Linked DNA regions of Homo sapiens: regions 1 and 3 are each linked to region 2. A link means that fine-mapping ties the variant in region 2 to the expression of a gene that starts in the linked region. Tissue or cell type: subcutaneous fat. Region 2 holds a variant in brackets; each other region holds the start of a gene. All regions are shown on one strand. Distances are between the middles of the regions.

Region 1 (2,500 bases), 29 kb before region 2:
CTCAAACTCCTGACCTCAAGTGATCCACCAGCCTCGGCCTCTGGGATTAAAGGCATGAGCCACCGCGCCCTGCCCATACTTCACTTTCTGATCCTCCTCCACACATAGGTCATGTGTCCACTTGGAAACGATCAAACACTAGTCATGTCCCAAAGGATGGGTTATCAAATCCTCAGACCAAACTAATAGGTCCCTAAATCTGCAGGTCACTCCCCGTTCCTCAATTTCATTTCTCTTTATCCCGGTAAACACATCTTCTGCTTTAGCCAAACACACTGCTTGCACATACCACCTCATTCGCTAGTTGTATCATCTCCCCCTTTTCCACCAATAATTCCCTTCACAACCCTGCTCAAAATACACTTTCCCCAAGGAAGCACTTCTTGATTACTGTTGCTGGATATGAACTCTTTTTTGTTATTGTTTTCTCATTAGTCTATGTTACAGAGGCCTGCAGAGTTGTATTTTCTTTCTCTCCCATTCATGGCCTCCCCCAACTTCCAACAGGCCTGTCTCAGGGCATGCAGGGTAGGAAGGGAGCTGCAGACTGATGCTGCTAACCATCTCCCAGGCCTCCTGGGCCAAACCGCACCCGAATCAACCCAGACCCCGCCTCACCCGTCAGTTCCCCAGTCAGGTAAGTGGCCATTTTGGAGAACATGTCCCGGCAGAGCTCAGTGATGTCAGCTTCAGCAGGCTCCTTTGCTTCCTCAGCTGTCTCCACGGCGGCATCGTCTGGGCCAAGGGAGAATGACTAAGTGTCCCGCCTACACCCGGTGCTAATCCAGCCAAAGCAGCCTGTTCCGACATCCCTCCACTTGCCTTCATTCCATCAAGTCGGCTCCATTCTCCATCTGCCATAATTTCAAGTCCTTCACTGCGTCCCTGCCCATCTGACACATCAACTCGCCTCCCTCGCACCGCCCCTCGCCCATACCCGGCACCCCCGCTCATCCTGGCACCATCCCAGTCACCCTGACAGGACAAACACTCGCGCGCAGCGACAAGTGCACTCCTCTCACCAGCCCGTTCCTGCCAGGTGAGCCACCACACACTCAACCTCGCCCACCCGAGACGGAGCCCCAGGCCCCCCACCGGACGCTTCCTCCCCATCCATTCCGGGTACCTCGGGCGGGCTCATCACTCCGGGTCGCCAGTACGCCCTCGGCTGCCGCCGCCATAGCGGACCCCGCGCTGTTTCCGGGCCGGGGTGCTGCGCATGCGCACTGGGTGTGCCCCGCCCACCCGGCCGGCCCTGCAGTCCTGCGCCTAGCGGTCCAGTCCAGCCTCAGGTCTATGACACAGCAAAGGGCGATTCCGGAGCCGAAATTGAAGCTACGCCAGGCTGTTGTGAATTGATCCACTGCCAACAGTCGCGACGTCTGGGACTGAGGGCGAGCTCATCCCTACAGTCACACCCTGGAGGGATCACTCATCTTGTACCACTCACGACCCGTCTGGGAATAGTCAACCCTGTTTGTGGCCTGCTGACCAAAACCACTGAAGACGGATTGCCCGCTCTCCTGACACTCCGCACTGGAGTTAGTCATCAAAAGATTGCTCAGGGAATCCAAAGTTTTACAGGTTGTCTCGTCCACACTTTGGGAAACCTTCAGGCATTGATCCCTGGTCCTAAATACTGTCCCTCCCAATGTCCTGAGTTAACACCAACTCACTGGCCCCTATTTCTTAAACTGCAGGCAGGCATCTACTTCTCTTCAGTTGATACAGCCTTCCTTGAAGAAAGCTTAGACTGTAACTTTTTTAGGGCTGAGGATACACTCTGGTTATCTTAATTGCATTTAAGCTGTTTCACAAGCCTCCTAGGTGTACAGAGTACTTAATGGGATGGGAGAACAGGAGTGAGTGAAAGAGATGGATGAGAAGAAGTGACTGGGGAGCAATTGAAGGTGCAAAATGAGGAGGGATAAAGGCCACAGAAGAAGGGATAGGAGATATTCAGCAGGCCTCAGGCAGGCTCCTGGACACCCAAAATCTTGGTAGTTTCTTTTCTTATCCCTGGTTATCCTCCCTCTGCACCCTCTCACCCCACCCCGATGCCAGTACATACACACACACGCCAGCTACCCCTTATCCCCAGCCCTCCTACCCTGACTGTCTCCACCCTGAGGACTGAGTCTCACTTGTCACCTGTCCCCACTTTTCCTATGGTGCAACCATAGTAGCCACTATTTCAAGCCATTCCTGCGAGCCAGAAGTTCTTTTTTTTGAAACAGAGTCTCGCTCTGTCACCCAGGCTGGAGTACAGTAACGTGATCTCGGCTCAGCTCACTGCAACCTCCACCTCCCGAGTTCAAACGATTCTCATGCCTCAGCCTCCCAAGTAGCTGGGATAACAGGCACGCGCCACCACACCTGGCTAATTTGTTTGTATTTTTATTAAAGACAGGATTTCAGCATTTTGCCCAGGCTTGTCTGGAACTTCTGGCCTCAAGTGATCCACCCAACATAGCCTCCCAAAGTGCTGGGATTACAAGCG
Region 2 (2,500 bases):
TCCTATACTACATTTATCACAATCAGCGGACGTTCCACCTCACAGACGGCATTGCTGTTGACTTTACACATCCTTCTAGTGTAAACCAACAGAAGCTTCTTTATCTAAAATTCATGTATATTTATATATGTCTAGAAAACAATTGAAATGGGCCGGGTGCGCTGGCTAGCCTGTAATCCCAGCACTTTGGGAGGCTGAGGTGGGTGGGGATCACCCAAGGTCAGGAGTTCAAGACCAGCCTGGCCAACATGGTGAAACCCCATCTCTACTAAAAATACAAAAATTAGCCAGGCGTGTTGGTGTGAGCCTGTAGTCTCAGCTACTCCAGAGGCTAAGGCAGAAAAGAAAGAAAGAAAGAAAGAAGGAAGGAAGGAAGGAAGGAAGGAAGGAAGGAAGGAAGGAAGGAAGGAAGGGAAGGGAAGGGAAGGGAAGGGAAGGGAAGGGAAGGGAAGGGAAGGGAAGGGAAGGGAAGGGAAGGGAAGGGAAGGGAAGGGAAGGGAAGGGAAGGGAAGGGAAGAGAAAACAGTTGAAATGATTATATACCAAACTAGGAACAGTGATTACTGAGAGGGATTTTTTATTTTGTTTTATTTTATTTTACTTTAAGTTCTGGGGTACATGTGCAGAACGTGCAGGTTTGTTACATAGGTATACATGTGCCACGGTGGTTTGCTGCACCTATCAACCCGTCATCTAGGTTTTAAGCCCAGGTTTGTCACATAGGTATACATGTGCCATGGTGGTTTGCTGCACCTATCGACTCATCATCTAGGTTTTAAGACCTGCACGCATTAGATATTTGTCCTAATCCTCTCCCTCCCCTTGCCCCCTACCCCGTGACAGGCCTGGGTGTGTGTTGTTCCCCTCCCTGTGTCCATGTATTCTCGTTGTTCAACTTCCACTTATGAGTGAGAGCATGCGATGTTTGGTTTTCTGTTCCTGTGTTAGTTTGCTGAGAATGAAGAGGGATTTTCACATTCTCTATGTTATTTGACTTTTAAAAAACAAGGACTATGTATTAGGTAAAAATTTAATAAATATATTACCAGTCTGATTTTCTTTGTAGGGGAAAGGGGGTAGAATTATGTTGTAATAGAATGAGAAGAAATGCTGGTTTAC[G/A]CCTTTTTCCTCTTACTTGCCCCTTGAGACTCTGACTATGGCAAAACTCTTGCATATTCATAGCCTGAGGCCTTAGTTGGCTGGCGCTACCTCCTCCATCCCCTGCCTCCTCCAGGCTGACAGCCAGCACTATTAAAACTAACAGGCAAGCAAGCAAATGGCAATGACTTTAGGCCTCCCTGGCAATGACTTAAAAACAGTTAAAAACAGTTTTAACACTGTTAAAATAAGCAGGCAAGCAAATGGCGATGACTTTGGGCTTCCCCAGACACGAATGGTACCTGTCTCTGGGACCTTCAAGATTTCCCAGCTCTCCCTGACCACTTTGTCTCCCACTTCTTACCATGGTCCCAGTGCACCCTCCACTGTAGCGCTCATCACATTCTATGTCACTGTTTGTTTACATGTCAGCCTTCCTTACTCCTTGAAGGCAGAAGATGTGTCTCGGGTATTTCTTTTGTTTTTTTTGAGACGGAGTCTTGCTTTTGTTGCCCAGGCTGGTGTGCAATGGCACGATCTCAGCTCATTGCAAACTCTGCCTCCCAGGTTCAAGCAATTCTCCTGCCTCAGCCTCCGGAGTAGCTAGGATTACCGGCATGCGCCACCACGCCTGGCTAATTTTGTATTTTTAGTAGAGATGGGGTTTCTCCATGTTGGTCAAGCTGGTCTCGAACTCCTGACCTCAGGTGATCTGCCTGCCTCGGCCTCCCAAAATTCTGAGCCACAGGTGTGAGCCATCTTGCCCAGCCTTGTCTCAGGTATTTCAAAACCCTCAGCACTTGGCCTAGGGCCTGGCACATAGTAAGACTTCATAAATGTTTGAATGAATGAATGTGTGACTATCCAGGATCTCAAACTTAGTTTCAGCATTTTGCTAATAAGCTCTCTTTGTCTCATCTGTTCTTTTCCTCCATGCTATGAAATAATCTAATTTGACCAGCTTAGACTCAGTCTCTGAGCCAGTGGTTTACACACATTTTGTTCTCAGAACCCCTTTGCAACTTCAATATTTTGAGGACTACAAACAGTTTTCATTTATTTGGGTTATATCTATCAATCATTACCTTATTAAAAGTTAAAACTGGCCAGACACAGTGATTCATGCCTGTAATCTCAGCACTTTGGGAAGTCAAGGCAGGTGCATAGCTTGAGCTCAGGAGTTCGAGTCCAGCCTGGGTAACATGGTAAAACCCCATCTCTACCAAAAATACAAAAAATTAGCTGGGTGTGGTGGCACCTGCCTGTAGTCCCAGCTACCTGGGAGGCTGAGGTGGGAGGATCCCTTGAGCCTGGGAGGCAGTGGCTGCAGTGAGCCAAGATCGCCCCACTGCACTGCAGCCTGGGTGACAGAGCTGAGATTCCATCTCAAAAAAATAAAAAT
Region 3 (2,500 bases), 32 kb after region 2:
CACAGAGAGGCTTACAGAAAACGATTCTTGTGAATTGGCTTGCAGTAATAATTCAATACCTGCCAGCTATTCTTATTCCACATCCAAGCCCTTTCGCCTGCTGCTGGGTGAAAACACATGTCAGTGTTTCCTGACGGTTTCCACAAAGAAGATTCCAAAATTACAACCTGCCAGTCTGAAGAATCTCCAAAACATCCCGCACGCATCCTGGAGGCGCGGGCTTGGGGATGGGACTGCCCGCCCGGGTCCTGAACAGGATGCGTGCGCGCAGGCACACACACACCAGCCAGCCTGTGTGTGCGGCCGGAGTCCGGTGCGGTCCCGGGTGAGCAGCGCGTGGCTGGTGGGCGGGGCAGAGCCATTGTTCGCAGGCGTACCGAGTCCCCCGCGCTCGCCCGGGAGGGAGGCGGGGCTTCCCGCGTCCCCCAAGCTCCAGATCCTGGGGTGGCTGCCACGTCTCCCTGCCACGCGCCTGGGGGGACGGAAGACGGGACGGAGATGTTAGTGGTGGGCGCCCCCCGAGGGTTCACCACTGTTTCCTGAGAAACTTCCCCAGTGCCCACCCACCCGTTCTCCGTGTGCCCGAGGGCCGGTCCTGGGCTAGGCTCCGCGCCCCAGCCCCAAACCGGGTCCCCAGCCCCTTCCAGAGAGAAAGCTCCCGACGCGGGATGCCGGGCAGAGGCCCAGCGGCGGGTGGAAGAGAAGCTGAGAAGGAGAAACAGAGGGGAGGGGGAGCGAGGAGCTGGCGGCAGAGGGAACAGCAGATTGCGCCGAGCCAATGGCAACGGCAGGACGAGGTGGCACCAAATTCCCTTCGGCCAATGACGAGCCGGAGTTTACAGAAGCCTCATTAGCATTTCCCCAGAGGCAGGGGCAGGGGCAGAGGCCGGGTGGTGTGGTGTCGGTGTCGGCAGCATCCCCGGCGCCCTGCTGCGGTCGCCGCGAGCCTCGGCCTCTGTCTCCTCCCCCTCCCGCCCTTACCTCCACGCGGGACCGCCCGCGCCAGTCAACTCCTCGCACTTTGCCCCTGCTTGGCAGCGGATAAAAGGGGGCTGAGGAAATACCGGACACGGTCACCCGTTGCCAGCTCTAGCCTTTAAATTCCCGGCTCGGGGACCTCCACGCACCGCGGCTAGCGCCGACAACCAGCTAGCGTGCAAGGCGCCGCGGCTCAGCGCGTACCGGCGGGCTTCGAAACCGCAGTCCTCCGGCGACCCCGAACTCCGCTCCGGAGCCTCAGCCCCCTGGAAAGTGATCCCGGCATCCGAGAGCCAAGATGCCGGCCCACTTGCTGCAGGACGATGTGAGTTTCCCAGCCTGGCCCCGTACCGCCGGGTCGCAGGCGCGGGCTGGGCTTCCAGGGGACGGGTTGGTGGCAGAAGAGAGGGGAGAGCTCCGCGGAGGACTTGGTCATCTTTTTCGAGTTGTGCTGCCTTCCGTGAGTTGGGAATGTGGATTGTAATTTGGGGACTTGAGTCTCCAACTTTAGTTTCTTAAGCTTTAAAGAAAAATCCGGTCGTGCTGGTGCTTTTATGAATTATGCGGGTTTTCCTTTGTCTTCGTGGGGATGTGAGTGCTTTACTTCTCCTTCCTACTGCCGCCTCCCGATAGGTTTCGCGCCCCTCGTCCCCCTCGCCCTCCGCCCCTAATGTATCTGTACAGTTTCAGGGAACTTTTCTCCGTTGCGTCTCGGATACACCCTACCCTCAGTGAACTACGGCGCTGCGGAAGGGTCCGTACTGTCCACCCTTCCCCCAGCGTGATTAGAGAGCGGAGTGGCCCCAGCTGCCTCCACGTGTCTCTTCTCCTGACTCTCCTCTTCCTCCCCCTTCCAGATCTCTAGCTCCTATACCACCACCACCACCATTACAGCGCCTCCCTCCAGGGTCCTGCAGAATGGAGGAGATAAGTTGGAGACGATGCCCCTCTACTTGGAAGACGACATTCGCCCTGATATAAAAGATGATATATATGACCCCACCTACAAGGATAAGGAAGGCCCAAGCCCCAAGGTTGAATATGTCTGGAGAAACATCATCCTTATGTCTCTGCTACACTTGGGAGCCCTGTATGGGATCACTTTGATTCCTACCTGCAAGTTCTACACCTGGCTTTGGGGTAAGCAGCCTCCCTGTCCTCCTGACCTAGTCCTCCAGGTACTCACTGCTCTTTTAATAAGGTAGGATCTTACAGAGGACACCAGCCCCTCCCAGCCTCCCGGTTGGGGTTTTTCTCAGGCATTTCTCTTTGGTTGCTTCAGGCCTAGTGGGCTGGGAAGAACCTGGGGGTACTGAGATGCAGGACTGTCAATGCTGGGGGTTGAGAGCTTTGGAACCTTGTGCTTGTGGGCTTTGAAGTGTGCTGTGCTGGAGAGTCAGCTTTCCCTGAAAGAGCTTTTCTGTTTGAGTCATTTGCTTGGCTGCCTGTCCCACCCCTGCCAGCCACAAAAGAATCAAACCCCTCTACCTGGGAGGCATGGGAACATGGTACTAAACCATTG

Direction of the effects. Positions count from the first base shown, and alleles are read on the strand shown. Sizes are in standard deviations (SD) of each study's normalised expression. Not every link is listed here.
With allele G in place of A in region 2, the expression in subcutaneous fat of the gene that starts at base 1,005 in region 3 is higher (small effect, 0.28 SD a copy in GTEx).

Evidence for each region. PIP is the estimated chance that this variant, and not a neighbour inherited with it, causes the effect.
Region 1: BLOC1S2 starts here. The variant in region 2 is fine-mapped to the expression of BLOC1S2 in subcutaneous fat (GTEx, PIP above 0.99).
Region 3: it holds the start of SCD, and the variant in region 2 is fine-mapped to the expression of SCD in subcutaneous fat (GTEx, PIP above 0.99). The same link has a PIP of 0.9 or more in visceral fat.

The regions. Positions count from the first base shown.
Region 1 is chr10:100,285,479-100,287,978 of GRCh38, forward strand. BLOC1S2 (biogenesis of lysosomal organelles complex 1 subunit 2) reads right to left here and starts at 1,202. Exons shown (of 5, transcript NM_173809.5): 1 at 1,127-1,202; 2 at 619-735. The coding sequence starts at 1,181. RefSeq lists enhancers at 436-943, 529-828 and a silencer at 1,119-1,318.
Region 2 is chr10:100,314,603-100,317,102 of GRCh38, forward strand. All of the region lies in intron 2 of PKD2L1 (polycystin 2 like 1, transient receptor potential cation channel), which reads right to left. Among named protein-coding and RNA genes, the nearest start is that of PKD2L1, 14 kb to the right of the region's middle. The variant G/A (reference allele first, on the strand shown) is at 1,120.
Region 3 is chr10:100,346,229-100,348,728 of GRCh38, forward strand. It overlaps SCD (stearoyl-CoA desaturase), which reads left to right and starts at 1,005. Exons shown (of 6, transcript NM_005063.5): 1 at 1,005-1,303; 2 at 1,836-2,118. The coding sequence starts at 1,277. RefSeq lists silencers at 270-649, 850-899 and enhancers at 440-1,031, 680-749, 1,130-1,369.